Regions from separate parts of the Homo sapiens genome. Here regions 1, 2 and 3 are each linked to region 4. Evidence: fine-mapped expression QTL. A gene starts in region 4. Each other region holds a variant in brackets. All regions are shown on one strand. Distances are from middle to middle.

The links. PIP is the estimated chance that this variant, and not a neighbour inherited with it, causes the effect.
Region 1: its variant is the best candidate, but not a certain one, in a credible set for the expression of HMGXB3 in whole blood (TOPMed, PIP 0.85).
Region 2: its variant is the best candidate, but not a certain one, in a credible set for the expression of HMGXB3 in T cells (TOPMed, PIP 0.87).
Region 3: its variant is the best candidate, but not a certain one, in a credible set for the expression of HMGXB3 in whole blood (TOPMed, PIP 0.79).

The regions. Positions count from the first base shown.
Region 1 is chr5:150,038,985-150,046,903 of GRCh38, reverse strand. It overlaps HMGXB3 (HMG-box containing 3), which reads right to left. Exons shown (of 20, transcript NM_014983.3): 14 at 6,025-6,156; 15 at 4,935-5,119; 16 at 1,219-1,438. Among named protein-coding and RNA genes, the nearest start is that of HMGXB3, 42 kb to the right of the region's middle. The variant T/C (reference allele first, on the strand shown) is at 3,940.
Region 2 is chr5:150,061,427-150,067,723 of GRCh38, reverse strand. It overlaps CSF1R (colony stimulating factor 1 receptor), which reads left to right. Exons shown (of 21, transcript NM_001288705.3): 11 at 5,875-6,001; 12 at 6,129-6,233. Among named protein-coding and RNA genes, the nearest start is that of CSF1R, 22 kb to the left of the region's middle. RefSeq lists an enhancer at 714-763 and a silencer at 2,714-2,889. The variant G/A (reference allele first, on the strand shown) is at 3,293.
Region 3 is chr5:150,029,921-150,037,817 of GRCh38, reverse strand. HMGXB3 (HMG-box containing 3) reads right to left here. Exons shown (of 20, transcript NM_014983.3): 10 at 6,979-7,077; 11 at 5,215-5,364; 12 at 881-1,182; 13 at 291-418. Among named protein-coding and RNA genes, the nearest start is that of HMGXB3, 33 kb to the right of the region's middle. RefSeq lists enhancers at 2,222-2,431, 2,552-2,601. The variant T/C (reference allele first, on the strand shown) is at 4,195.
Region 4 is chr5:149,996,338-150,004,256 of GRCh38, reverse strand. It overlaps HMGXB3 (HMG-box containing 3), which reads right to left and starts at 3,518. Exons shown (of 20, transcript NM_014983.3): 1 at 3,078-3,518. TIGD6 (tigger transposable element derived 6) reads left to right here and starts at 3,603. Exons shown (of 2, transcript NM_030953.4): 1 at 3,603-3,783; 2 at 7,828-7,919. The coding sequence starts at 7,909. RefSeq lists enhancers at 2,624-2,703, 3,591-4,379 and a silencer at 3,784-3,863.

The DNA of each region.
Region 1 (7,919 bases), 43 kb before region 4:
AAAAAAAAAAAAGATGCCTGGGCCCTTAAAATATTAGCAGGAATATGAGGTGGACCTCAGTATCTTTTTATTTTTATTTATTTATTTATTTTGAGACGGAGTCTCGCTCTGTCGCCCAGGCTGGAGTGCAGTGGCGCGATCTCGGCTCACTGCAATCTCCGCCTCCCGGGTTCACGCCATTCTCCTGCCTCAGCCTCCTGAGTAGCTGGGACTACAGGCGCCCGCCACCATGCCCGGCTAATTTTTTGTGTTTTTAGTAGAGATGGTGTTTCACCGTGTTAGCCAGGATGGTCTCGATCTCCTGACCTCGTGATCCGCCCGCCTGGGCCTCCCAAAGTGCTGGGATTACAGGCGTGAGCCACCGTGCCCAGCCTCAATATCTAATATTAGGAAGCACTGTTTGAGAACCAGTGGATCACAACATATTAAGTGATTACAATATCAATTGAGTGGGTCATATCCAAAAATTCAAAAATGAAATAAGATAGAAAATAAAGAAAAATACTGTTTTGGGAATGTTGTTTCAGTTATACACACTTGCATATGTACGAATATCATTCTGCGTCATGACACAAAATGTATTTCTCACTATGGGTTACAGTTAAAAAAGGCGGCTATCACTCTAACCGCATTAGCTCACTTTATCTTCAGTGATCTAGGAAGTGGGTAGCTATTATCGCACCCTCTTTGTAAAAGAAGCAACAGTGGCTTAGGGCAATGATGGGACCTGACAGAGGGTCACACAGCTAAGTGGCAAAGCTGGGAATCAAACTCAAGCTGTTAGAAACCTATCCTCTTACCCGCTAGTCCAGGGTTTCTCAATGTCTAATCCATAAAACTAGCTGCAAAACCCTCTGGGAGGCCTGTTTTGAAGGCAGATTCCTTGGCCTGCCCCTACACTTGCTCAATGAAAACCTTTGGGGATGGAGCCTTATCAGCATTTTTTATAGGAGTTCTGCTACTCAGTGTGTGTATCCCAGAAGGCTGACAATGAGCTGTGCGCCCCTGCTATGTAAGATGGAGGACAGCTCTTCAAAACTCTGCACCACAACTTTAAACTCTAGGGGATTTTGACACGGGCTGTTATTATCTTTCTGAAAGGAGTCCTGCAGCGGGGCCTGGCCCTCTCGCTACCACTGTGCTATCTTGCCATGGACAATGTCCCAGACTCTTGACTGAGCCCTTTTTTGACCCCAGTCAGCCACCAGGTGGCCTTACCAGGTACTGGCTGCACATCCAGGTTTTTGTCTTTCTCAGTGTTGACGACCACAGCTCCTCTCATGAGTGGTGGGAAGAAGGGGGCAATAACAGACGCATCAAATTTGGTGATAGGGATGCTGGCAGGAAATGCCACCTGCTCAATCACCTCTGTCTCCATCGTGGCCCAAAAGTCCTCCACATTTACCTCATTAGAGCCCAGGAATTCAGGCCAGGTGAACTAGAAGGTCAGGATAAAGAAGGTCAAACTGTGGGAGTCACAGAACATCAGCAACACAACAGCCTACCCCGTCATTATACACACAGGGAAGCCAAGGCTTGGTGAAGGGAAGTCAGACAGCCAGGCACTGCCACAGGGCCTTGAATTTGACAGCTCTGTACCCACCTGCCTTTTGGTCACATTTCTTTCCCTCACACCATAGTACTCTCCCAGACATGAATAGTTCCTAAATCCCTTCTGTTTCTATACCTTTGTTTATGTCATTTTCCCTGTCTTACAAAGAAAGTGGAGCTACCATTTGAGTACCTGTTATGTGCCAGACACTTTGTAATGAACTACTAAAAAACAAGTCTGGGGATGGCTGAGGTGAGTATTCAAGCACTCGAAGAGACAGAACAATCACGTCAACACAGGTCTAGTTCCAAAGCCCAAACCCTTACTGCTGATACCAGGCTGGCAAGAACGAGCAGAATCCTATTGAGTAAAATTCCAGCCATTTTCCAAGGCCCTGTGGATTGCCGACATCCTCCCACACATCATCAGCACACAGCTATCTCCTCTACCCAGGGCAGCATTTACTTATCTCTTATAGACATCTATTAATAGCGCTTGTGCTACTCAATTTTTCTTCTTGCAATGCCCTCTTATATGGCTCTCAAAACGTGACCCGGATCCTAATACCTCAATCACAGTTGTATAGCTTACTTATTAGAAATGTAAAAACCTTGGCCACATCTTGAGCTGTATGAACTAAACTCCTAATTTTGCATTTAAAAAAGTTTCCTCAGAGGAATGGTTCTCAAAGGGTGGTCCTGGACAAGCAGCAAGAGTATCATCTGACAACTTGTTAGAAATGCAAATTCCTGGCCCCACTCCAGATCTCCTGAGTCAGAAATCCTGTGGGTGGGACCCAGCAAGCCCTCCACTGTAAAAAGTTGTGAGAACCACTGCCCTATGTAGTTCTTATACCCACTAAAGTCCAAGAACCACTGCTCCCCATAAAGGCTCCTCTCCTCACCTTATTCCTCTTTGTTTGCCACCTCACAGGGGTGCTTAGTGCATGCTCTGTGTAAATGGCACACCTAGGGGAATGAGGCCAGCTGAGTCTATCCTCTCCACAAGGAGCAAGGGAACAGGAAATGCCAACCCAGTACACAAACTAACCACAGGGTCCTCCTTTATACAACTCCGAGAGAGGGGCTGACAAGTCTCTTCATGGATAACAGCATATTTAAGTTTTGTTCAATAACTTCCTGTTTTAGTTCACAGACTTCAGGATACTCTCTCCCCACACATACCACACTACTCTCCACACACAAAACAAAGAAGTACCTCTATGAAAGAAGTACCTGGTACCACTGAAGGAAAGAGACAAGCAAACTGAGAGTGAAGGGAATGCTACTCCATTCTGGGACAGAGGAGCCTTGATTGGGACAGGACGGGTGCCAGGCAGGACTAGGAGATGGCACCTTTGCAGGGAGGTGGGCCTCTGTCTATTCTTGGAAACCATAAACTTGCTGTGGCCAGATATGATCAGAAGAAACAGAACTCAGAGTCGTAGGAGGTACTGGTGAGAATGGCAGTGCTTAGGGTGCAGACTCCACAGTCAGCGGCTGAGAAAGAGCAAGGTCAATCTCAGCCCCACCCTTCTCTGGCTGGGTGAGCTTGGGCAAGGCCCTTGGGCTTCAGTGCCTATGTCTATAAAAACCTCATGGGGTTGTAGGGAAAATTAAGTCATATAGTAAAGCACTTAGCACAGATTAAGAACTTGGCATAGTAATAAAATGCTCAATAAATCTTAGCTGCATTATTATTAACACTACTACTAGGCAAGCGGATTTGAATCAATCTGGAAACAGCCTCTAGATGAGATAACACAAACAAAATGGTTTAGTTGCCTGGTTTCTTACTTGGGAAGTAAAAGACAGGACTATGCATTCAACCCTTAATATGTCTAGTGGTCCTGCCAGAATACACCAAAGCTGTTCTCTACAGGTTCTGCACCTGCCTGATCAGTGAACACATGAGATGCAAGTCCAGTACCTGAAAGTCAGCTCATGTCCCAGGCTCTTGTTTACTATGGTAGAGTTCAGAGATGGAAACCTCACACTCCTATGCAACTACTGGCATATTCAAGGCGCAGTCCCTGCCTGTGAGTGTAGACCAGACCTCATAGCATGATCACAGGGAAAAGTAATCTATGGGATTTTTTTTTAAACCCTAAAGAAGGTTAAGGAAGATTTCCTACTGTTCTGTTTGCTAAAAGTTTTATCATAAATATGGGTGTAGAATCATACTGGACAACTTTTTTTTCCCCATACATTTAATGAAATTATCATATAGGGTTTCCCCTTTAATCGGTTAAGTAGTGAATTACATTAACATATTTCCTACTGCTGAAACAACCTTGCTTTCCTGTGTTTAACTTTGTCATGATGCATTACTGTGTTAGATCTGATTTGCTATTATTTTATTCAGACTTTCATCTATATTCATGAGTA[T/C]ATTCAGCCCCAATTTCTTCTCTTACATCAAATGTCTGATTTGGTTTCCAAAGTTATACAACCTTATATGATGAGTTGGGGAAACATGCCCACTTTTGTTACTTGCCTATGTTTGGAATAATATTTCTTGGATATTTGTTCTAATTAATCTATGAAGCCATCTGAGTTTGATGTTATTATTGTGTGAAAATTTTTCAGTTCAGAACCTAAGTTAGCTCAGGTCACTCTTTTCCTCCAACCCCTTCAGTGGCTCTCCATTTCACTCTGTGTAAGTCCTTAAAATAGCCCATGTTACCCTACATAGCGTCGGCCTCCTGCACTGTCTGGACCTCATACACCCCACCACTCCCTCCCTCCCTCCCACACTCTGAGCTGCACCACTGGTCTCCTTGCTGGTCCTCAATCATACCCAGCAAGCCTTCCTCAGACCCTGTTCGAGCTGTTCCCTCTGCCTGGAATATTCCTCCACAAAGCCACATGGGTTTCAGATCTCTACTCAAATGCTACTGTATCAGAGGGGCCTTCCCCCCTCACTGCCCTCTATAAAATACAAATGCCCTTTCCCATGACACTGTTCTCTCTCTCTTACCCAGCTTTACTGTGCTTCACAGCACTCACTACTCCTGGACAGATATTTGTTTCCTGTGTCCTCCAAACCAGAAAGTGAGCTCCATGAGGACAGAAACTTTGTTTAACTACTATCTCCCAGGTGTCTAAAACATGCATTTAGTTTATGTTCAATATATTTACTATATATATTTTTTGATACTTATTCACTGGATAAATACATTTTTCAAGTGAGTAACTGAATAAACAAATGCCTCCATTTCCATCTGGCATTCCCTAAATGAAATCTTGGGCTGTGGGAGGAAAAACTCACTTGCCTCACCTAGACAGGACTGGAGCTATCCACCCCCTGGGGATATCATATAGGAAGGGAGGTGCCAAAATGAGAAAATTCCGCAGGTCCCTCACGGTGGCTAAGAGGCACTTACCTCCACGCTCTTCAGTGCTAGCACATTCTCTTCACTCCTCTGAGCCATTTCCACTTTGGGGGCCACACCACAGATGCCACAGATCATGTCATTGTAGTCTCGGACAGTGAGGCACTCAAAGGCCCAATAGCCATTGCACAGCAGCTCCTGCAGCTGGCTCAGCTCCTCCGAGGTCAGAGTCTTCTCTGAAAGAAGAGCAAGAACACTGAGAAGGGCACAGAAAAAGACACTGAAGCCACTAGGGATGAGCCAGTGGGTAGTAAGTAGAGCAATTCTGCCAGACTGATTCACCTTAAAGAACACTCCAGTGTACTACCTACCCTGAGGGTCAGGGATCTGGCCTGCAAGTGCTCAGGTGGCAACCCAAAGAGCAATTCCCACTGGAGTGATAGCTGCCTTGTACTAAGTACTAGATGCTGTGCTGAAAGCTTTGGATATGTTATGTCATTAATCTCACCTCAATTTAATTCTTTATGAACGAGGAGCTATTATCCTCATTTTATAACTGGAGAAACAGAGGCACAAGAATAACTTGCTCAAAATCACACTGCAACAGTGGCAGAGCCAAGACTGAAACACAGGCCCATGTAACTCTAGTAGGCTCTACTCCATCTGTTCTCACAGCAGGTAAGGTAGAGGGGGATTGGAGCCTATAGGAATGGGATGGGAAAAGCACAAATAGGAGTAAAGAGGGCATGGAGGAAAAATATTCTAGACAGAAAGGATGGTCCTCACTCTTAGGTCTTGGCATGAGCCTTGGGACTGGAAGCAGATATCCAGGAGCTGTGTGGTCAGAATGAGTCTAACATGCAATGGGGCCAAGTCTCCCTATGACCAAAGAAGGTACTTCTACAAGTCACTCGTAATCTCTTGCTAAGGGTCCCTGGATGCACAAAAAGATTCATGCTTTCCAAAATTAGTTTGGCATTTGTAAAATTCAAAAGGAAGAGTGTATTAGGAAGTCAAGAATGTCTCCTTTTCAAAATAATCAGACTCTTCTTCAAAATGAGTCTTTTAACCAAATGCCATCACTGAAAATTCCGAGGGAGCTTAGGACTAACCTTGGGAAAGGGAAGAAAACAACTTTTACCTGTCTGCTCCTGCACCGACTTCAGAACAACATTGATGGACACTCTGGGGTCCTCTCCGAGCTTGATCTGATTTCTGATTGCAAAAAGCAAGTCCAGGCTTACCAGCAGCTTGTTCCCCACATTAAAGAGACCTGCAGGTTAAGAAGAGGCAACAAGGAAATTAATGTATCATACACAATGGCAAAAAATAGAATACACACCAGCTGGGTGCGGTGGCACGTGCCTGTAGTTGCAGGCACTTGGGAGGATGAGGCAGGAGGATCGCTTGAGCCCAGGAGTTGTCGACTAGCTTGGGTAACACAGTGAGAGACTCCATCTCAAAAAAACAAAACAGGCCAGGTATGGCCTGTAATCTCATGCCTGTAGTCTCAGCACTTTGGGAGACCTGTAGTCTCCCAAGGTGGGAGGATCGCTTGAGCCCAGGAGTTCAAGACCAGCCTGGACAACATAGCAAAGCCCCATCTCTATTTTATTCAAGTTATATATCTTGAAAAAGGCAAAACAAAAACCCCACAACTAAATGCCCATCAATAGGGAAAGGGTTAATTAATTTATGGTGAATTCATAAAATAGAAAGCATTAAAAAGAATAAAGTATTCCAACATGGAATCCATTTTTTTTTAAAAAGAAGTAGATCTAACTGTTCTGACGCAAAGTTGCCTATAATACATCATTAAACAAACAAACAAAAAATAATGAAATAGTACATATAGTAGATCTTTTTCCCCCAATAAAAAAAAGGAACACTTTCTTCCCACCCAGCTCAGTCCTCAGGACCAAAGGTATCACTCTTCCTTTACACCTCACACAACTTCACCTGGGGAAAGGCCAGGAGCATCCTTTAGCTCATGAATGTGTAAGGGGTACAACAAAGGCTATGAAATCACTCCAACACCAAATCCTGAAATGAATGAATCTGAGGAATTTAAGCGCAGTCAATTTAAGACAAATAAAAGTGGGTGATTTTATATGTGCACAAAACATAATGCACTAATCTGCACAAAAGCAAATTTTGGAGTATGTGTTCCCAGTGAAGAAGGGTAAGGAGAAGTGCAAAGGCTGAAACCACAAGGGAGAGCAAAGCTCTGGTCCCATACAAATATTTTTTAAAAAGCAAAAGTCATGACGCCCCCAGAAATCACCAGGTACAAATGTAAAAGACAACTGATATCACATTCTGACAGGCTAGAGGTAAAACTGAATAAATAGAGCGATAAACTGGGAGAAAACTGTCAACAAAAAAGACCAAAAGAAGAATGAAAACACAAAAGAAATTTACTATAGAAAAAAACCCATAAAGGATCATAAAAAGGACATATACTCTACCTACTACAAAGAAATACAACAAATTACCTGATTATACACAAGTTTTTACCTATAAAATTGATAAACTTAAAAAAATTATAATATTTACAAAAACAAAGTCAACAGACAAACTTAATTATACTTCTATACTAGCAATGAATAGCTAGAAATTGAACCATGTCATTTAGCACTGAAAAAAAAAAGTAAAATACTTATATGTAAGTCTACCAAAATATGGGCAGGACCTATATGCTGAAACTAGAAAAACTGACAACCTATTAAAATGGAGAGAAAGACTATGGACTGGAAGATTCAACATTGTTAGGCATGTCAAAATTTCCCAAATTGATGTGTACAGATTGAACACAATCCAATTAAAATTCAAGCAGGACTTTGTAGATATTGACAAGCTGACTCTACAGTTTATACGGAGACACACCTATTAGAATGGCTGAAAAACAAAAACAGATAATGCTAAGTACTGGCATGTAGAGCAAACTGTAACTTTTACCCATTGTGGGAAGGAATGCAAAATGGTACAGCCACTTTGGTAATGCAGTTTTCTTATAAAATTAAACACACACTTACC
Region 2 (6,297 bases), 64 kb before region 4:
GATATACAAGCGTGGTGTCCCCTGGGCCAGGCCTGAGCCCTGCCCTAAGAAGCACATGGTCTAGTGAAGACGAGGGCCTGTGACCATCATCCTCTTCATTATTTCATGTTACTGTCCTATTAGCCAAAGCCACAATTTAGTGCATGTTGCGTATAGTGTGCTTCCTGTCACTGTCTGCTCAGTATATGACAGTGATTTGAGGGGCATTTTTCTATAGCATGTTACCTACATCATCTCATTTAATGCCCTCAGCAACCACTGTATGCAGCTAGCATTAGTCTGTTTTACAGAGTTGTAAACTGAGGTTCTGAGAGGTTGGGACAGTTGCCCTTGTCTACAGCTGGTCAAAGGCAGAGTCTGGTTTTTAACCCTGAAGGAGGACTCACTCCAAAGCATGTCCCAATCATTATGTGAAACATTGACTCATCTTATTTTACCCTCACAAGAAGCTGGAGGCAGGAAGTATACTAGTCAGTATCTTACCCATCAGGAAGCTGAGGCTCAGCAAGGTTAAAAAAAAAAACCCCAAGGGGCTGAGGGATAGGGTTGGCACTGGGCCCCAGGGGCTTCTGTCCCTAGAGCCCATGGCCTCCACTGCCTGCCTGCCCACACAAAGACCATGTGCAATGTGATCAGAAGCTGAGAGGACCAGGCCAGAGGGCTGTGGGAGTTCAGAGGTGGACGGACTTTTCAGGCTGGTGGGTAAGGGAGACTGCCTGGAGGAGGTGGCTTGGCATTGGTGGGACGGGCTTTGGAGGATGAGGATGCAGCAGGGGAGATGACACTAAGGGAAAGGGTACCTCTGGGGGAGAGGGCAGAGTGTGCAGAGGTGCAGGTGAGGGAAGGACCAGGGTGGGGTTGGGGGTCTGAAGGGTTGGACCCCACCCTGTCGGTCCAAGGCCATCAGTGGGTTTGAACAAGGGAGTGGTGTGATCAAGGACTGAATGACCCATCTTGTGTCCCCTTGGCTACCTTTTCTTCCCCACACCCCCTTGGGGCTTTTGTGAGAAGAGGGCTTGAAGTGGGCAGGGTGGGAAGGATGTTGGGGGAGCCCCAGGGGCACATGGATCGGGATCTCTACTCCTGCCAGCACTCAGCATGAGAAGGCTGCTCTGAGGGCAGCCCCGGTCAATACCTCCGGATCTAGGTCCAGCTCTGACACTGTTTTGCCATGTAACCTCAGCTGACTCGCTGTCCTCTCTGGGCCTTAGTTTCCCCTCTTATACCATGGGTCTGGGTGTTCTCTAACAGCCCCTCCTCCTCTGACATGCCAAGAGCCCACTGGTGGTCTAGTTTAAGCACCAGAAACTTGGACTTCAGTGAATCTGGGTCCAAATCCTGCCTCTGCCAAGCTCTGGCTATGGGATGATGAGAAAGTTGGTGTGTCTGAGTCTCTTCTCCATTTGTAAAATGGGATCATTAACAGCCTGTTGTGAGGGATTCCGTACCACAACGCACATAGAGGACTGAGCGGGGTGCTGGACGAGACAGTCTCTGTGATGGGAGCTGCACACTCTTGTCCCAGGAGGAAGTTCGTTGGGGAACCAGAGTTAGCTCATGCCTCTTGGGATGGTGGAAGGAGGGGGAGGTCTGAGGTCGGGCATCATCTCCTTGACTACACACCCAAAGCGGTTGTTTGGCCCAGCCCACCCACCTCCAGGGACAGGACCTTACTCACTCTCGGGGCCACCTGTTCCTTCTCTGAGCAGCTCCAATGTTTGCAAAGTTCTTCCTTACATGGAACTGAAAACTGCCTCGCAGTGCCCACAGAGCTGCCAGGACAGTCATGCAGAGATTCCAGAGAAGAGCCTAGGGCCCCCTGCGGCCCTTTCTGCCTTGGGCTGGCCAGCCCCCTTGGCTGTGGTTTAGGAACTCTGTATCCCCTCTCCACGGGACCATTTTTGGAACATGTCACCTCCACACTTCCTGTCCAGGAAATTCAGCTGCCCCTGGAGCCCATGCAAGGCTGCGAGAAGACTTGCAGCTACCCTCCTCCCCTACACCCATTCACAGACCCTTTAGCTCCAGGCCGAGGTGTCCACCCATGGGAGCGGAGGGGGCAGGATGGTCATGCCCGTGCTAAGTGCCTGCCCTCCCATCCTCCTCTGCCTTGCCCCATGAGGTTCGGAGCCTTGCCCCTTCACTGGGGACTCAGCCCAGCCTCTCCTCATTGCCCAGGCCTGGGGAAAGAAGTGGCCTGTCTGTGGGGAGTGTTTGTTCTGCCTCAGGGCTGAATCATCACCTTTCTGTCCCCCAGAGTGACCACAAGGGGGGCCGTGGGGGAAGAGAAAAGGGCAGGAGTCAGCAGGCTCCCCTGGAGGAGGAGGCGCACAGGGAAATGGCTGAGGCAGCAGGGAAGGGAGGGTCCAGGGAGGCTGCTGGAAAGACTACGATTCTGGGGGCTGGAACTGAGCTCTGAGGAGCAACAGGAGGGTCCCCAAAGATTCCACTGGGAATTGTTCAGATCTCCACCTTCCTGGGATGGAGAACATCCACTCACCCAGAACCAGCAGGCCTAGATGGGGAGGGGACCGGGACTTTGTCTCCATGCCCCCTTTGGTGGGGAGGATGGGAGGAAGGGAAGAAGTCAGGGGGTGGGCCTGGGGCTTAGGCCCATTGCAAGGAATGAATGGGGTGATGTGCTTCAAGCATCTAGCCCAGCGCCCCACTCCCAGGAAGAGCTCAGGAAGAACCCGCTGCCATCATGACAATTACGTCCACCCTTCTCAGGGAGCCTCGCCCATCCCCACCTCTTGATCTCTCACTCATAGTTCTTTGGAAGAGAGGCTGCCTCTGGGTAGACGCCCATGAGCCCTTTCCAGGGATGGCACAGGTGCCCTGGGAGGTTTACATGCCCAGCAGGGGCAGGGGAGGGTTCCTGAGGCAGGCAGAAGGCAGCTTGGTCCGCTTCCAGAAATTAGGAGCCTAGGATTCAGAAATCTGAGAATCCAGCCAAACCTCCATCCTCCTTGATCCCCTCCCTTTCAACAGTGCCCCCTGCCCAGCTGGGGGCAGGGAGGGGCTGACTCAGCCCAGCTGCAGAGGGACAGAGGAACAAGAAGTGGTAAGAAAAAACAGTCTTAGCCACAGAGGCTCCTAGAGATGGAAGTGGCCAGGAGAGGCTGAAGAATCCCCTCCTTGCCTTGTTGCTGTCTTTTGGGCTGGGAAGGCACCCACGGGCAGGATTTGGATCCTCAGAGGCTTGGGAAGTTCTTCTCCCTGGGTCCCGTTTCAGACTCTCTCCCAAGCTATAACGCAGAGGCTCTGAAGTTCACCTGCAGTCCGCCCTTCC[G/A]AATCAGAGCCTGGAAGTTAGTTCCTTCTCATTTCTAATTGCAGTCTTTTCTCTCTAACTACCAGCTAGAAGTTCTTCCTGATGGTTAGCTGGAAGCTTTCTCCCTGTCTCTCTCTTTAAAAATGTCCACATTTTATTTTTGATTCAGGGGATAGACGTACAGGTTTGTTGCATGCGTATGTTTCGTGATGCTGAGCTTTGGAATATGGATCCCATCACCTGCTACTGAGCATAGCTCCCATAGTTTTTCAACCCTCGCCCGCTTCCACCCTCCCTGCTCTAGTAGCCCCCAGTGTCTGTTGGTGCCATCTTTATGCCCATGCACACTCAATATTTAGCTCCCACTTATAAGTGAGAACATGCGGTATGTAGGTTTTCTGTTTCGGTGTTAATTTGCTTAGGATAATGGCCTTCAGCTGCACCACGTTGCTGCAAAGGACATGACTGGAATCTTCTCTCTCAACCAGGACTTGCAGCTAAAGGCCAGCCTCCTCCCTAGCACCGGTCCACACTTCCTTTAAGTTTCTAGCTCGGGTGCCCAGGGAAGGAGCCCAGCTGCAGGCACAGCCAAGCTTGTCCCATCCCCAAGGCCTGGCCGGAAAGAGTTGCTCTGCTGACCCAGGGCCTCAGTGTCCTCCACCGCCCCAGCCCAGCTTCCACTTTCCCCCTCAACTTGGTCTTCCATCAGCATTTCTTGTGGGCAACCCTTAGCATGGTACTCCCCCTCAGCAGCTGACCCCTGGGCAAGAAACAGGGGCAGCCATTCCTCCTCCCCACATCCCAGGGCTTGCCTCCCCTGGCTGGGTGGTAACAGCATGGAGAGCCTAAGGAAGGAAATCAGGTCTTTCCAAAGGTGCTGGTCCTCCAGAATCTATCTAGTGGGCAGCGTCTCTCTTTCTCTCTCAAAAAGGTAAAGTCAAGGCTGGGTGCGATGGCTCACGCCTATAATCCCAGCACTTTGAGAGGCCAAGGCAGAAGGATTGCTTGAGCCCAGGAGTTTGAGCCTAGTGAGCTATGATCGTGCCACTGCACTCCGGCATGAGTGAAGGAGCAAGACTCTGTCTCAAAAAAAAAAAGTCAGATGGCGACTCACCTGTGTCAAACTCTCAGGGTCTCTCACTGCCCGGCCAGGCATGGTAGCTCATGCCTGTAATCCCAGCACTTTGAGAGACCGAGGCAGGCAAACTGCTTGAGCTCACGAGTTCAAGACCAGCCTAGGCTGCGACAAAGCCCCGTCTCTACAAAAATTAGCCAGGTGTGGTGCCACATGCTTGTAGTCCCGGCTGCTTGGGAGACTGAGGTGGGAGGATTGCTTGAACCTCGGGGGTCGAGGCTGTAGTGAGCCAAGACTGCCCCCACTGCATGCCAGTCTGGGGGACAGAGATCCTGTCTTGGAAAAAAAAAAATCCCAAAAGGGAACCCACTCACCTTATCATAGCCCTCAAGGCCTTCCTGTTTCTGGAATCTGCCCCCCACTTCCCTCAAGCCATGATGGCTGCCTTCCTATAGCTCAAACTTGCCAGGATCATTCCCATGTCAAGCATACAGCATTTCCATGCACTGTTCCTGGAAAATTCTTCCTCTGATGGTCACATGGTGGGCTCTTTAGGGGCCTTCCCTGACTTATCTTACTTTATTTTCTTCATAGCACCACTTGAGAATCTCCTAGATACATGTTTATTTGCGTTTAATGCCTCTCTCAGCCACTAGAATGCAAACTCCATGGAGGGGCAGGGACTTTGTCCTGTTCAACTCTGAATCAGCGGTGCCTGACACAAATAGATGTTCAAGAAAGTATGTGGATGGGCTACTATTATTCAGCCTTAAAAAGGAAGGGAATTCTGACCTGTGCTGCAGCATGAATGAACCTTGAAGACATTATGCTGGGTGAAATAAGGCAATCTCAATAGACACATGCTGTGTGAGTCCACTGAGGTGCAGTGCCTAGAGCAGTGCAATTCACAGAGACAGCAGAATCATGGTTGCCAGGGGCTGGAGGAGGGAAAGGGGAGTTGCTTTTTAACAGGAACAGAATTTCAGTTTTGCAAGATGAAAAGAGCTCTGGAAACTGGTTGCACAAGGTAGAATGTAATTTACTTAATACTACTGAACCATACACTTAAAAATGGTTGAAATGGTAAATTTCATGTATGTTTTATCACAATTAAAATATATATATATATTTGGATGGGAGGTTGGGTGGGTGGATGGATGGGTAGATGGATGGACAGATGAACGGATGGATAAGATCTCAAGTTCCACCCTCCCTCCTGGCTCAGGAATTACCAGATTATCAGAGATATCAGGGCCCTCAGAGGTTGTCTTGTCCAAGGTCTTCAATACACAAATAGTGAAACAGGCTTGGAGAAGGGAAGGTCACACAACAAGGCAGAGTCAAGCAGGAACATGCTCTCAGTGCTATGTTCATGAGACGACCTCTCTCAGCCCAGAGCAGGCCTTGCCCTGCCTTCTCCCACTGGGCGCCTTGGGACTGCCCACACCCCTGCTCTTGGGGGTCAGAAACAAGGTCCAGGAACTGCCTGCCAGCCCCGACTGCCACGTGCTCCCTTCCTCTTCTGCAGAAGCCCAAGTACCAGGTCCGCTGGAAGATCATCGAGAGCTATGAGGGCAACAGTTATACTTTCATCGACCCCACGCAGCTGCCTTACAACGAGAAGTGGGAGTTCCCCCGGAACAACCTGCAGTTTGGTGAGATGGCAGCTCATCACTCCACAGCTTCCTATCACAGGGCCTGTGGGGGTTGCAGGGAGCCCATGGGCCCTTGGACAGAGGCCCTTTGGTGCCCAGGGACTTAAGGGACCTGTGTGCGTGGCAGGTAAGACCCTCGGAGCTGGAGCCTTTGGGAAGGTGGTGGAGGCCACGGCCTTTGGTCTGGGCAAGGAGGATGCTGTCCTGAAGGTGGCTGTGAAGATGCTGAAGTGTGAGTGAGGGGAGGGGATGAGGGAAGGGATGGGGGGTGGTAGATGCTGGGGGTGGGCTGGCCC
Region 3 (7,897 bases), 34 kb before region 4:
TCATGGCAGTAGCAATGCTCTTGATTTTTTGTTTCCTCTTTTTATTTGTCTGCATTTTCCAGCCCTTCCACAATGAAGATCTGTTATTTTAAAGATCCCAGTTGAGAGCTTCAACACTTGAGAGGTAAAAGTCATCTTGTGGGACTAAGACATTTAGGAAGAAGACTCCCCCTTCCTCAGAAGCCCCATCTGAGAAGGCCCAGTCCTCAAAGGGCCAGAGGTCTCATCCATAGAGGCAGTTCCCAAGCCTGCTTTGGGATGCTCTGAGGGAAGAGAAGGTTGGCACCCACCTGTGTAGATGTCTATGAAGCTGTGCAGGGCCAGACAATGGGGGTTCAGACACATCTTCACCTGGGCAGTCACTGTCTGCAGACGGCTGGCTGTCAGCAGCCAGCACTCCTGGGGCCCAGCCAGGGAGCTAGTACCAGAAACATCACCAACAAAAAAAAAGAAGGGAAAGAGACTTCTTTATGGAGTTCCAGGGCTCAGTGATCAATGGCAAATTCTCATTTGCTGGAGCTTAGGATTTTCTAGGTAGGTATTTCCACTTTGTTGGAATCTGTGGAATCATCCCTACAATTAATGTAACTCTGAATTTATTACATAATTTAACCAATCCCAATGAACTCCCAAACCTAAACATTGTGTGGGGCAGTCCAGATGTAAACTAAATCCTAATCTGGTGATAACTTTCAGGCATTTCAACAGAAATGATAATTACCAATTATTACTTTACTTTCAGCAATCAGAAAGTTAAAGGAAGCCTAAAAACGGCAGAGAATAACATCTTCACAGTTATAGTTTTAATGTTTTCTGAAGAAAAGAGCAGTATGAGCCAAATGGGATGGGGTAGCTAGGGGCAGAGTTAAGGGGTGCTTACTTTTGTCCCCCTTTGAATAATGGGCTGCTACAGAGAAGGCACTGCGTGGACGGAGACTCATAATAATTCGACCAAGAGGTTTGCTCGATGGTGACTGTCTCCTCACTCACGTTGGACAAGATAAGTCGAGAGCTGTTGAGTTCATGAATCAAGGCGAAGACCTCAGCCAGCTCTGACTCATTCTCAGGAATCTGCAGGACTTTGCGCAGCAGCTGCAGTGTGGACTGGCGCTGGATCTCCCTCTGGGCTGTGCTCAGGGGCTCTGTGGCATTCAGTACATCTGGGAGTGGTGAGCTCACCTCCTGGGAAGAGAGTGGATTGATCACCAAGCACTCAGAGCAGAAAGAGCCAGCTTCAGGCTAAAATAATAAAAGTCTGGGAGCAGCAGACAGATGGGGCCCATGACTGATAGGTGGCAAACCTAGGTTCCTAACCAGCTCAGCTAATAACTCACTGTGTGACTAAAGGCTGGTTATTTTTCTCTGTGGGGCTCAGTTTCTCTACAGGTTGAGCACCCCAATCCAAAATGCTCTGAAATCTGAAATTTTTTGACCACTGAGACAACATTCAAGGGATATGCTCATTAGACATCTCAGATTTTGAATCACTGGATTAGGGATGCTCAAGCAGTATGTATTCTGCAAATATTGCAAATTATGAAATAATCCAAAACACTTCTGGTATCAAGCACTTCAGATACAGGATAGTCAACCTGTATCAGTAAATGAGAGGATTATATACAACTCTTGGTAATGGATTCAACACTTAGCTCTCATTCATCAGGTATGGGGTTTAGAGGATAACAGACCCAGGTTTCAGTTCTGGATATGCCACTTAACAGCTGTGTATGTGGGACCCAAGGCAATTTACTTAATCTTTCTGAGTCTCAATTTCCTCATCTGTGAAATGGGGCATAAAAATAGTAATCTCTTAGAGCCATTATACAGATTAAGTAAGATATTATAAGTAAAGCACTTAGCACAATGCCTATGGTGCAATGAAGGCTCTATGAATGATAGTTTTGATACATAAACAAGTATCTGCACTGCTTAAAGTTATCTGTCTTTAATTCTCGGTGGCTTCTGGGTACAAGGTAATTTTGTATACCAGTCAGAGGCTTCCAGGAACAATGTTCTGAAATACTCATTAAAAATAGGTCTTTCTCAAGCAGGTCTCTCTTCAATGGAGCTTCTCCCTGATCCTTTTTGCCAAGGCAGCATAAATCACTCCCCGCTTTGTGTTCTCTGAGTGCACCCCTTGACTGCAGAATTCATCATCTGACAGCTGCTAAACCACCACCCTCCCCGCTTCAGTAAGGGTAGGATTCTGCTTATTTACTGATTCCCAACCAGCATGATGCCTGAGACACACATAAGATACTGATTCATATGTGATGGACATATTATACATGGCTCTGTAGAAGTTAAATGCTTAATGCTATAGTTTGGATGTTTACCGTCTCCAAATCTCATGTTGAAATGTGATCCCCAACGTTGGAGGCAGGTCCTAAAGGGAGGTACTTGGGTCAGGGGGGCAGATCCCTCATGAGTAGATTATCGTGGGGCAGGAGCAAGGGAGGTGGTGAATGAGTTTCGCTTCCTTTTTCTGTATGTGATCTCTATGCATGCTGGCTCCCCTTGCCTTCCACCATGAGTGGAGGCAGTCTGAGGCCCTCACCAAAAAAGATGTTGGTACTATGGTTCTTGTACAGACTGCCAAATTATGAGCCACATAAACCTCTTTGCTTTATAAATTGCCTAGCCTCAGGTATTCTTTTATAGCAACACAAAACAGACTAGGACACTTAATAAGGAGCTTTTTATTAACTCCGCATACCTATGACAACTTTCATTTGTAATAGCTTGGTTATCTTTCTCTCCCACTAGACTGTAAGCTCTTCAAGGGAAAGGGCCACGTCCTATTCATCTCTGAAAGCCTGGCCCATAGCAGGCATTCAATATAGGCTGGCTGAGAGAATTAATTAATCAGTGGCTACAGAAGAGCTGACTAACACTAGAATGAGCTGCCCCGAGAGGCTGTGTGTTCTCAGTCATGACTATGAAACCACAGCTGGAAGACCACTTGGCAGGAATACTGTCCCGTGACTCTCGCCAGAGATGAAGGATAGAAAGGACTAAAGACCATTCCATCTCAGAGATGTGAAAACATCTGGCTACCAGGGGGCTCCAAATGACAACACACAAGAAGATCCCTGTGGTTCTGACCAGTGCTTTATTTTCTGGAAAGCAGTAATTACACTGTATTTCTCCAAACTTTAGGAGATTGGAAAGTGATGGAAGGTCTGCAGATGAGGGTCCTGGGGGTGGGCAGTTCTCAGTTAACCAAATACAGATGGATATAAGTTTAAGAGTGGGATTTGAAATTGGCAAGAGGTCCCTAGATAATTTCCTATGTCACCTGAGAAGTTAAGTTCCTTCATCATCCTAGATCTAGAGAGTAACACCCACTTCCACTGCAAACCGCGCAAATAGCTAAAATGAACTGGAAGGAGAAAGGAATGCTCAGAGCTTCTACCTACACAGAACTCAATTCTATCTCCTAATTACAGATAGACACACTTTGTATATGTAAGCTCCAGGGTTAGAAGGTGCAGGAAAAACAGACATACCTGCCCTAGAAGAGATTGTGGTCTCATAGGGAGTTAAGAAAAGCAGTCAATATGGGGTGTGATCAATGCTATGGCAAGAAGAGCACTTTGAAACCCACTGAAAATCCGGGAAGAAAGCTTACTTCCAGCAGCAGGCATCCAGTGGAGCAAGAGAATCTGATGAAAGCTACGGACCCATTTTGCATGCAATTTCAGGGATTTATAAACTCCTTAAAACTCAATTATCAGTCTTCTCTAAGGCTCCTGTCTCTTAAGAGTAAAATGCCCAGATCTAATCTACCTTGCCCACCTTACTTTACCAATGGAGAAACTAAAGCTCGGGAGAGGGAAGCTTCCAACTCAGGGTCACTCCCAGCCCCAGTGTTTTTCCCACCAAGCCATTAGTGCCCACATACTTTGGTTCCACTTTCCTTTCTCACAAGGACAATAACCTCAGAACATCACCTCAAGCACGGAAACAGACTCTGGAGACCAGGGTGAGATTCATCATCAAAAAGGCCTCTCTCCATATACAAATAAACCTCTAAGCTTGAAGCAGTTCTCCCCACCTCTGTAGTCCTGTCTACTCCCAAACTCTCATCCCATAAATTCCCCTCTTGAAATAACTTTCCTCTAGGCCTCTCCCCGGCTCAAGGACATTCAGTAGGACCCCACTGACTAAAGAACAAACTGACAAGACCTTCCA[T/C]GACATGGTTCCAAGATGCTTTTCACGTCTTATTTTCCGTAACACCCCTTCTCCCACCCCATGCCCCCACGCCATCTCCTCCAGCCAAATGGAACACTCTTCATGTTCACTCACACTTATCCTTATCACTCACACTTATCCTTATCCATACTCACACTTCATGTTCACTCACCAGACTACAGTCTAGTGGGAGAGACTTAAGTATGGCATGCCTTCCCCTTCCATTCAAAACCTGCCTGCCTTTCAAGGTCCAGCCTTGATCTGGAGTGACCAGGCTCCATCTCAGGTCCTGACCTGTTCTGTGTGCCATCCCCTCTTTCCCCAAGGCAGACCAGTGACATTTCTCTTCTCATCCTTATTTTAGTCCTTCCATTTGCTGCCTCAAGTGCCACCATTTTCTGTTCACTTTAAAAAACTCATATGGAAATTCTGGGGACCTCTGAAAATGCCCATTTTTCCTGGTAATAGTAATAATAATAATAGCAGCCCTAAGGAGCCAAGTGGAATGTATTTTACTACCCAAGTAGTTTGGCCCAACTTCAGAGAGGAGGGCTGCCTAGACTGCTAGAAATAAAGCTTTGATTAACTAAAAGCTTTCCAAGGAGCCTGAGAAAGCAGCGGTGGTCTAATCTGCAAAGTCTCAGGTTGGCATTCTCTATTTACCGAAACAGTAAATCAACTTACAGGTCTTGTATCAGGCCTCAGCGGTAAGAGGATGCAACCCTTTCGTCCCTCTCCTTTCACTCCTACTTAAGGCCTGTGCTACATCATTCTCTGCAGTGAGTGAACTCTTGGTTCTCAGAGATCAAGATACCTAGTCAACCCCTTCACCCTGGCAATGGGGACAAGGAGGCTCAGAGAAAAGGCGGCACTTGCTCAGGTTCAGAACCCACCAACTGGTTCAGTTTGGATGCTCTAACTACCACCATGTACTTTAAAAATCTTCTTATTTCTACTAAGACAGGTTCACTAACAGAGCCCAGAACAGGCCAGGGGATGTGTTTGGGGGAAGGAACTCACGATAGCCTTGGTGGTTTTCTCAGTCCGGTCTTTGGCAAGGTTAACACCACAGCTGGGACAAATTCGAGGTTTGTGCCTGTTGGTGTAGACATAGCTACAAGAGGGATTCTTGCACTTTCCCCGGCCTCTTGATGTAGCCAGGCCCAAATCCTAAAAAAGTAAGACCAGTGTTCAATTCTACAAAAATTAAGTTAAACCTGGGCAGAACCCAGAACCAGAATGAGCAGCTGCCAGTAAATCAGAGAAGAGAGTGGCAACTGCAAACCAGATTCAGCCTAACTTCAAGAGCCTTAACCTTTTCTGCAGTTAACTCTTTTACTTTTAATACAGGCTGTAAATTTTTGGCAAATCCAGTCCAGTCCTTCCCTATCTGTGAAACAGGAGAGTTGACTCTCAATGGTCAGAAACTCAAATGCCTTCAGGGTCCAGGCAGTTGGTGGAGTAAAGCAGGTCTGTTTAAACAAAGAGTGCTTGAGACTGGTGAACTAAAGAGTTCAAGCCCTGCCTGAAGACAAACTGTGACTTACAGACTATTAAAGCTCAAAGCTCTAGCATCTAAGCTCCTATGACAAGTTACTATCTAATCAGCAGAAGAGAGGGTCTACTCAGGGGTAGTTCCCCCTAAATGGTAAATCTAGTTGCCTCCTGTAGCCAAAGGGAGTGGTGAGTGAAGGCATGGAAAAGGTAGTGATTATATTTAGGTCACAAGAGAAAGAAACCTGAGCAGATCTCCAGGATAAGAGACACATTCTCCTTATGGATCAGGTCAGGCCAGACATTAACCCATCACATTGTGCTGTCTTGTTTGCTACTGAATCCCCAGTACAGATCCTAGTACAGAATATGTGCTCAATAAATATTTTTTGAAGGAATGAATGACCCTTTCTGAACCTGTCTGCCATTATGAGGCAAGACTTTTTAAAAATCTAGCTGTTCTCTCAAAATCTGTTCATCTTAATCAAATCAGCTAGAGAAACTGCCAAAAGACATCTTGCTGGTTGATACTTTAAGCATCAACAGAATTAGAGAATGTTGAGAGTGACAGATGCCCCAAAGATGTCTAAACCAATGCAGCACTTTACAGATAGTGAAACTGAGGACCACAGAAGGAAAGAATCTTGCCCAGTGGCATATGGCATGCTAGCAGCAGAGCCAGAACTCCTTTTGGACCAGGTCTCTCAGCTGTCTAGCATTTATTTCCCTGCTCTATGCTGCCTGCCCTACAAAAGGGTGATCCCAATGTCACACATTTGTCCATTAGGACGTTAATATGTGTTATGTTAAAAATAAAGGGAAAACCCTGTGGGAAACACTAGGCTAAACAAAATAAGCTGCTTTACTAAAGTACTTCTCTATTTTACTTTAAGATACTCGTGTTGAACTGGACTCTGTTTTAGGGAGAAAAAGGCAACGTTGCCTAAATGTAACTGTGGAACACCCTTTCTAAGCTAAAAGGTTCCAAGACAGCTAAATGTTAAATCTGGACTAGATTCTCATCTCTGGCAACTCTCAATAAAAATACACTAATCTCAGCTGTCCTACACTTTATAAATCTCACCTGGAAAGAGACCAAAACAACCCAGCAGATTCATCCAGTAGCTATTATTTGCATCAGGGATGGGATCTTCATCATTAACAATCTATACCTGACCCTGTTCTCCCTCCCAGCTACCACCACCCTCTCCCCCAGCCTCCTACTGACCTTCAACCACAAAATCAAAACAACCTCCATGTCAACCCACCACCACCTAGCTGCATACTTACCAATGTGACAGTGCAGCTGTACTTATATGGAGGAAACATATCGGGCTTGACCTCCACAACTTTCACCTGAGAAGTCCTGTTGGATGGGCCACTTGGTAGCTGTGGATCAGAACAAATTATTTAGTGCTTTTGAACCTTAGCCAAACTCCTGAGCTCCCATGTCCTGAAACGACTTGAGGGAATGCTTTCCCGGGGAATTTGTAGAGCTATTCTCCAAATGAGCCCTCTGGACTGCCAGTTGGCAGTCACAAGCCCACCAAAGGCTGAGTGTCATGTTCAAGTCCAGGCCTTGCCACATGCTTCTGTGCAGTTTCTAATACCATGTATTAGAAACACCATGAATCAGATTTACAACTACTACTGAGTTATAAAAGCACATAATAGCTTTTATACATATAAATACATGGTTGAACAACTTTGCATAGAAAGATGTCTGAAAGACTATTCACTAAAATGTCACAGGGTAAGAGGACAATCATGGTTGTTTCTCCCTCTTTACCACTATCTACAAAATTTGCTTTTTTTTTGGTAGCGATGTGGGTCTCACTATGTTGCCCAGGCTGGTCTTGAACTGCTGGACTCAAGCAATGCTCCCACCTCAGCCTCCCAAAGTGCTGGGATTACAGGCAAGAGCCACCATGCCTGGCCTCAAATGTTTTATAAGGAATGTATATTTTACTTATATAGCTAAAAAAAAGAAAGAAAAGATAAAGCATACAAAATTAAAATTATTCTATAATAATGAATTTAAGTTGATTTTCTGAATATCTCATGTACCTCTTTACTGGTTTAAGACTAGTAAAAGAGCTTGTGGCTTTTAACAAATACCCAATGTCACCAATCAAAAGGAAACTATTTACAGAGAAGACTGGGGTTTACCCAAGTAACAGAGTGTACATGAAGGGAATCTAGGGGCTGG
Region 4 (7,919 bases):
GACATGTCTCAACTACCTTCCCACAGATTTATAGTGATAAGACTCAAAGGATACAATAGACACAACTCTATTTAAAAATAATTGGATGGGCGCAGTGACTCACGCCTATAATCTCAGCACTTTGGGAGGCTGAGATGGGAGGGTTGCTTGAGGCCAGGAGTTTGAGGCCAGCCAGCTTGGTCAACATAGTGAGACCCCATCTCTATTAAAAAAATAAAAATCTTTTTTAATTAAAAAAAAAAAAAGAAAATAGTCAAGTGCTATGCAAATGAAAAGGGTTTGTTTTTGGGTTTTTTGTTTTTGTTTTTTGAGACAGGGTCTCACTCTGTCACTAGAGAACAGTGGCACACTCTGGGCTCACTACAGTCTTGACCTCCTGGGCTCAGCAATCCTTCCACCTCAGCCTCCTGAGTAGCTGGGACTACAGGTGATGTCATCACGCCTGGCTAATTTTTTGGAGAGATAGGGTTTTGCCATGTTGGCCAGGCTGGTCTCAAAATCCTGGACTCGGGCGATCTGCCCACCTTGGCCTCTCAAACTGTTGGTATTACAGGCATGAGTGGGATTACACTGTGCCCTGCTGGGTTCATTCCTAAAGTCAGGTAATTGGCAGAAAAAAAAATGGAAGAGTTCATTAAGTTTTTTTTTTAATTTTATATAATTTAAAAAATAATAATAGAGATGAAATCTCGCTATGTTGTCCAGGCTGGTCTTGAACTCCTGGGCTCAAGCGATCCTCTTACCTCAGCCTCCCAAAGTGCTGTAATTACAAGCGTGAGCCACCACATCTAGCCTCTGTTAAAGACTATTATCTGTGTCTGAGATGCTTAACAACCTTCCCAAGGCCACCAAGCCCAAGCAGGGACTTGAGAGATAGATTTTTAACTCAAAAATCCAACTCCCTGGGCCTTCTTTCATTATGCTACACTGCTATCCATCTCTACTGGCAACCCTCCAAACCAGCACTGTTCAATAAACTCTGATGATGGAAATGTTCTACATCTGTGCTGTCAAATATAGTAGCCACCAGCCACATATGGCTATCGAGCACTTGAAATATGGCTAGTGTGACTGAAGAATTGAATTAGTTTTATTTTTAAATTTATTTATTTTTAAGACAAGGTCTCACTCTGTCCCCTGGGCTGCAGTGCAGTGATGAGATCCTGTCTCACTGCAGTCTCCACCTCCCAGGCTCAAGTGATCTTCCCACCTTGGCCTCCCAAGTAGCTGGGACTACACATGTGCACCACCAAGTCTGGCAAATTTTTAAATTGTTTGTAGAGATGAGATCTCATTATATTATCCAAGCTGGTCTCAAACTCCTAGGCTCAAGCAATCCTCCTGCCTTGGCCTCCCAAAGTGCTGGGATTACAGGCATGAGCCACCACCACACCTGGCCAATTGTAATTAACTGAAATAGCAACATATGCTAGGAGCTAGAGACAGCACAGATCTAAACAGTCATCTGACCAACCAACATCAGCTCTCTGGTGCTGGGCTAAAAAACAGAGAATCTACTAACAGCTTTTATGTCTAGGAAAAGAGGCATAAAAAACTTAATAACCAGTTCAAGAAGAGTTAGTTTTTTTTGTAGCCAAGTTCTAAATTGGACTTTTACCACAAGTCTCAATCCTTGGAGGGAGAAAGGCTCACAGAAACCACTTGAATTTTACAAGAGGAAATAACATAGTTGCCCCTGAAAATCTGTCAGGAGGAAATTTAGAATTCTGGGAAGAGGCAGTTGTGGTGGTAAATATGGGACTGATACGTGCAGTACAAAGCCCACACACCTCTCATTTAGACCTCACTCCACAAATAAGGTATAATGAGCACTGCATGTGGAGTCAAGAGACCTAAACTCTAACCTTATGATCTCAGAGAAGTCTATTCCACATCCTAAATTTCAACTGTTTCTACTGTGAGAAAAGGATGAACCCAGTGGCTCCTAGTCTTTTGGAGGCAAGAATTCTTTTGACAATGTTGCGAAAGCTTAAAAAAACAAACAACTACAACAACAAAAAACCTCTCCTAGAAATTGCAGACACACTGTATTTCACCTATAATTTTCAGGATATACCCCAGGTAAAGCACACATTATTCCTTAGGTTCTTCCTAGTTCTCTGTCATCTCTAAATGATTCCTCTTCCTATTAAAAACAAAAACTAAACTAACAAAGAAAAACAAAACAAAAACCTACATTCTAACTGCCATAGTGCAACCCAGGAAGAGAACACAGTCTACAACTTGGCTGGGTAAGCAATAGGCCAGTAAAGGATAAGGGAAGCAGTAGTTCAAATCAAGGCTACGTGGGGACTGCGCTTTTTTGCCCTGAATTGACTTCTGGGCGGCTGAAAGCCTTGTGGAGAAGGGCAGTAACTGCAGGAGAGCATCTGTAATGAATGGCATATAGGGTACTAAGCACCCTGCGCAAAACGGGTTAGGAAACACTCATTACAGCCACCTTGGGCTGAGGGCAGGAAGACAACACCCTACGGTTTTGTTTGTTTTATTACCCTGTTCTAAGCCTGAGTACAAGTTTGTTATCAGACTCGAGGCAGCAGTATAGCAATGCAAAAAAAGGCAGGACAATTTAAGGTTAAAAACGAAGGGCTCTAGAGGACAGAAAATCCGGGTTCTAGTACAGACTACACCAGTCGCACCAGCACGGGGACCTCTGACCTTAAGCAATCTACTTACCCTAAGTCTCCGTTATTTCATCTGTAAAACAGAGTTAAGGTCAATACCTGAAATATGCGAGACACTTTCTCTGTCCCATCAGATCCTCCTTGGAATCTCACGAGATTGCCTTTGAGGGCTCAGCCATGGGCCACAGTTTGACTCTGGGCTAGCTCCTTTCCCTCATTCTGGGTCATGAATGAAGCAAGAGCCAAACCAGACAAAGTCTTGGTCAAGCTAAGACGTCTGGGACATCCGAATGTCCCATACGGATTGCGGAAGGAGGACACTAAGGCTCAGTGGCCCTACTTTGTGGAAGACTCAGTAGAGGCTCAGAGAGCCGCAGCATCCAACTCGAGGTCGCCCAGCGGCTCGGCGCGGCCCTCGAAGGCGGGACTTACCCGGAGGAGCGTGCAAGCTGCGCCGCTCACATTCCCGGAGGCGCTTGGCCCGGCGGCTGGACGAGGGGGATGGCTGGCGCACTCGCGCTCCCCGCTGTCGGCGAGAGGCGGCTCCAGTCGTGACAGCAGCAACAAGGAAGTGGAGGCGAGGGCTCGCGCGCGCATCCCGGGGGCTGAAGGAGCCCCGGCCCCGCGGCCCCGCCCGGCGACACACGGCGCGGAGTCGCGACAGCCCCTCTCGCTTCCCCTCCTCGGAGTCGCGATATGGGGTCCTGAAGGGCAAGAATAGGAGCACAGGTTCGCTCCGCAGGCTCCTCACCGATGCCTGCCGAGGGCCCCGGGGGTCAAGCCCCGGGGAGCTCGAGGAAGACGGCAGGGACACGGTCGTCACCGAGGCACCGGTTTGGCGGCTGCACCGGCAGTAGCGGCACACCACGGATCGCCAGGGAGACCCGTCCCGGCGGCCCTCGCGGCGCACCGGAAGCGGTCGGCAGCGCGTGACTGCATGCGACCCCTGGCGCAAGCGCAACAGCCCAGCCCTAGCTTGGGAGCGGACCCACACGAACTGCTCAAAGGCTTGGAGCGGGTCTAGTAAGGCGAACGGACTGCTTCCGGCCAGAGGTCCCGGGCGGAGGAGGAAGCTGTGGCTGCCGGCGGTGGGACGCCCCGGCCGCTCAGCCCCCGGGCACTGCTGTGGGGCGTTCAGGTAACAGGGGCGGGGCTGTGCTGAGCGTGAGGGATCTAGGCCCCGCCTCACCTTTCAGAGCCACGTCGGGCGCTGGGAAGCCTACAATACCACCCTCTCCTCAGCACGACGTTCAAGGCCTGACCTCAGCCTGTCTCAGTCTTTCCCTCTCATTCAGGATCGGGTTCATACGTAGTGCCGCATCAAGTAGCGCCTTCATCACTCCAGTGATCTGCCCTCAATCCGTCTCTCCCACTGGCCCACGAATAGTGATGGTAGTGAGTTCCTGGAGTGACTCAAGCTGAGCTGAATGACCGTATGGAGAGCTTCCGTAAATCAAATAGGGATTGGATTGGATTGTCCTTTCTCTCCAGTGTCACAAGTTGTCCACATTTGTACAAGTTCCCGCACAACCCTCACTGTATTCCAGTCTGCCTACTTCTCTGCATCTACCGCCATCACCAACCTTCTAGCCACCATCATCTCCTGCCTGGACTGATGTAGTTCTCCCCACATCCCCTCTACAATCCATTCTCCACGAAGCAGTCAGATTGATCATTTTGCACTGTAAGTCTGATCAAGTCACTCCCTGCTTAAAACCCTCCAGTGTCTCATTCACTTAAAATAAAATTCAGACGTCTTAGCTTGACCAAGACTTGTCTGATTTGGCTCTTGCTTCATTCTCTTTCTATGTCTCCTCTCAATATTAGTAGTTCCCAGAACCAGCTATATAGCACTCTGTAGTGTTTGGAGTGCTAGCTTTGTTGTGAGCCTCCTGGGTTTGAATCCCAGCCCTGCCACAAGTAAGCAATATTAAGCAAGTAAAGTGCTTAACAAATGAGGTTTACGCAGTAGATCCTCCCACCTCAGTAAATGGCACCATCATCTGCTGGATTCCTCAGTGCTCAAACCAGAAACCTGGGCGTTATCCTTGACTCCTCCTTCACCTCACATCCGGTCCAGCACAGGGCTTGCAAAAACATAGCCCCAGACTGACTACTACTCACCATCTCTCTATTACTACTCTAATCCAAGCCACCATTATCTCATGTGGACTCCTGCTTTTTTCTCTGATACCCTTCCATTCTTTACACAGCAGTCATCTCTCCTTCCTTAAAATCCTTCAATAGCTTCCTATTGCACTCAAATTAACATCCAAACTGTATATGGCCTACTGGTTTAGCCTGCTTTTATCTTCAGATTTAAGGCCATCTCTTAGGAAAATCAACTTTACCCATTAGGTTCTCTACCCTGCAACCAAAAGACTATATTGTAAATCTGATCATGTCATTCCAGAAAAACAAAACCAAAAAACCGTCAAAAGCCTCTTAATGCCCCCAAAGCAAGCTAGAAACCTGACTAGGACTTCCTGTGATTTGGTCCTTGCTTTCTTCTCCAAAGAATTTTTTGTTCCTGACCAGGACATTCTATTTCCTATATAGTATTTCATTGCCTTTCATGTTAAATATTTCCTTTCATCTCATGAGTTCCTATTTGTTTATTCTTTAAGGCCCACCATATTATTCCCTCTTTGAAGTGCACTGCCCATCCATGCTCCATTCCAGTTGATTATCTGCACATTTATGTTCCAGTAGTACTCCGTAACCTCTGATTTAGTTTTCACATGCTCTAGTGTTTGTCTTCCCTGGTAGGCTCCTCAAAGGTGGGCACTATGCTCCATTCATCTCTGTATGGCTGGCATCAAGCATACTGCTTAATACATAGTACATGTCATGAATGGATGGATACATGTATGGAGGTGATAGTAAAAATCTACCCTTGAGAAGGGACAGTCATAGCATAAAGTCACAGCAGGTTCTCTTGTCCTTTAAGGATTCTCATGATAAAATGCCTACGAAGGCAATTACCCAAAACTGCTACTGCTGGATCATGTTTTGTTGGACCAGCGTAGGGCAGGGGGACTGTTTGTTTTAAATTCTGAATACTTCTAGACAGGATACACCACACCATTCTCCAAATACTTCAATCCCTGTTTCACTCACTTACGCCACCATCCTGGCCCCTAAAGGCATTTGAGTTTGAAGCACCTATCTAGGGTCCAAGACTTAAATCTGGAAGGACCTTAGGCATCATCTGGGCTTGTGGTTTGCAACCATGGGACTTTTCAAAAATATGTATTAAAAAAAAAAGGAAAAAAAGAAAATAGGCCCAGAGAGGGACTGTACTACAACCTGCCCATCACTTCTGCCATAATCTGTCACCTAATTGGTCTCTTTGCCTCTTTGATCCATTTTCCACAGAACAGCCAAAGTGATCCTTTTAAAATGCCTGAAAACATCCGTGGATTTCTGTTGCACTCAAAATACCAATTCTTTACCATGGCATCTTTGTTTGTTTGTTTGTTTGAGATGGAGGCTCGCTCTGTCGCCAGGCTGGAGTGCAGTGGTGTGATCTTGGCCCACTGCAACCTCCGCCTCCTGGGTTCAAGCGATTCTTGTGCCTCTGCCTCCCGAGTAGCTGGGATTACAGGCATGCGCCACCACACCCAGTTATTTATTTATTTATTTTTTTTTGAGACGGAGTCTTGCTCTGTCACTCAGACTGGAGTGCAGTGGCGCGATCTCAGCTCACTGCAAGCTCCGCCTCCCGGGTTCACACCATTCTCCTGCCTCAGCCTCCCGAGTAGCTGGGACTACAGGCGCCCGCCACCACGCCCGGCTAATTTTTTTTGTATTTTTAGTAGAGACAGGGTTTCACCATGTTGGCCAGGATGGTCTCGATATCCTGACCTCGTGATCCACACGCGTCGGCCTCCCAAAGTGCTGGGATTACAGGCGTAAGCCACCCCATCCAGCCTACCATGGCATCTTTGAATGGTCTGGCCACCCACCTTTGTCATATACTTGGATTCATGCAAATATTTCAGTTCCCTGAATACCTCAAGCTATTTTCGGTGTGTGTGTTTTTTTTGTTTTTTGTTGTTGTTGTTGTTTTTGAGACAGAGTCTTGCTCTTGTTGCCCAGGCTAGAACGCAAATGTACGATCTCAGCTCACTGCAACCTCCGCCTCCTGGGTTCAAGTGATTCTCCTGCCTTAGCATCCCAAGTAGCTGGGATTACAGGCACCCGCCACCACGCCCGGCTAATTTTTGTATTTTTAGTAGAATCGGAGTTTCGCCATGTTGGCCAGGCTGGTCTGGCCGCCTTGGCCTCCCAAAGTGCTGGGATTACAGTCATGAGCCACAGCGCCCGGCCTATTTTTGCTTTTGAGGTTTTGCTGATGCTATGTCTTTTGCTGGACAGCCCTTTCCCCATATTCTTGGAGATCTCAGCTTCAGTGCCATCTTAGTGAGGACATCCCTGACCACCCTTTGTATAATAAGTAGATCTTCCTCTTTTATTCTTTGTCATAGTCTTTATTTCCTTTATAGCACATATCACCCTCTGTAATTATCTGTTTACTTTTTATATTTCCCACCACATTTTATATTTCATAAGAACAGGGACCTTGACTCTTTTGTTCATTACTCTACCCTTAAAGCTTGGCACCTGTAAATATAAAATGAATGTATGGCTACCAGAAACATCTTCCCACAGTAAAAATCTTTCCAGGCCAGATGGTGGTAGAGCTTTGAAGATCTCACTTTGGTGGAATTTCAAGCAGGACCATGGCCTGGCAGAAATAGTAATCTGAGTTAAGAAATCTAAGCTGCATGAACCCGGGTAGGCCCCTTCCCAGGGCCCCAGTTTCTGTGTCCATCAAAGAAGCTGGAGAATAACTCGGAATGTATACAGTGCAATGCTATTTGCCAAGCTCTTTCACTGCCTGTTATTTCAATCTGTTCTCATGGTAGGCAGAGCAAACATTGTTATTCCCATTTTTATGGAGGTTCAGAATGTTTAAGTAAGCTAGATAAGATCACTTCTGTTTCAAACATTCTGAGTCTTTACAAGTAGCCTCTACAAAAAGTCAGTAGCATGAATCCTATCTTTTCTTTACTTTGACTGTAAATTGTCCTTTCCTAATACAATTTGTAAAAATCCTGAACCATCTTTTAGGGGAAATCCATTGTTTCCTGATAGGTACTCCATTTTGTCTTCTCAGCTTTCCACACTTGGGGCAAAGCAAGCCGCGAGGAGGAACCAGACAGTCCTGTTAGTTGTGGCCAGCCCTCATTCCCTGGAAATGGCAAACAA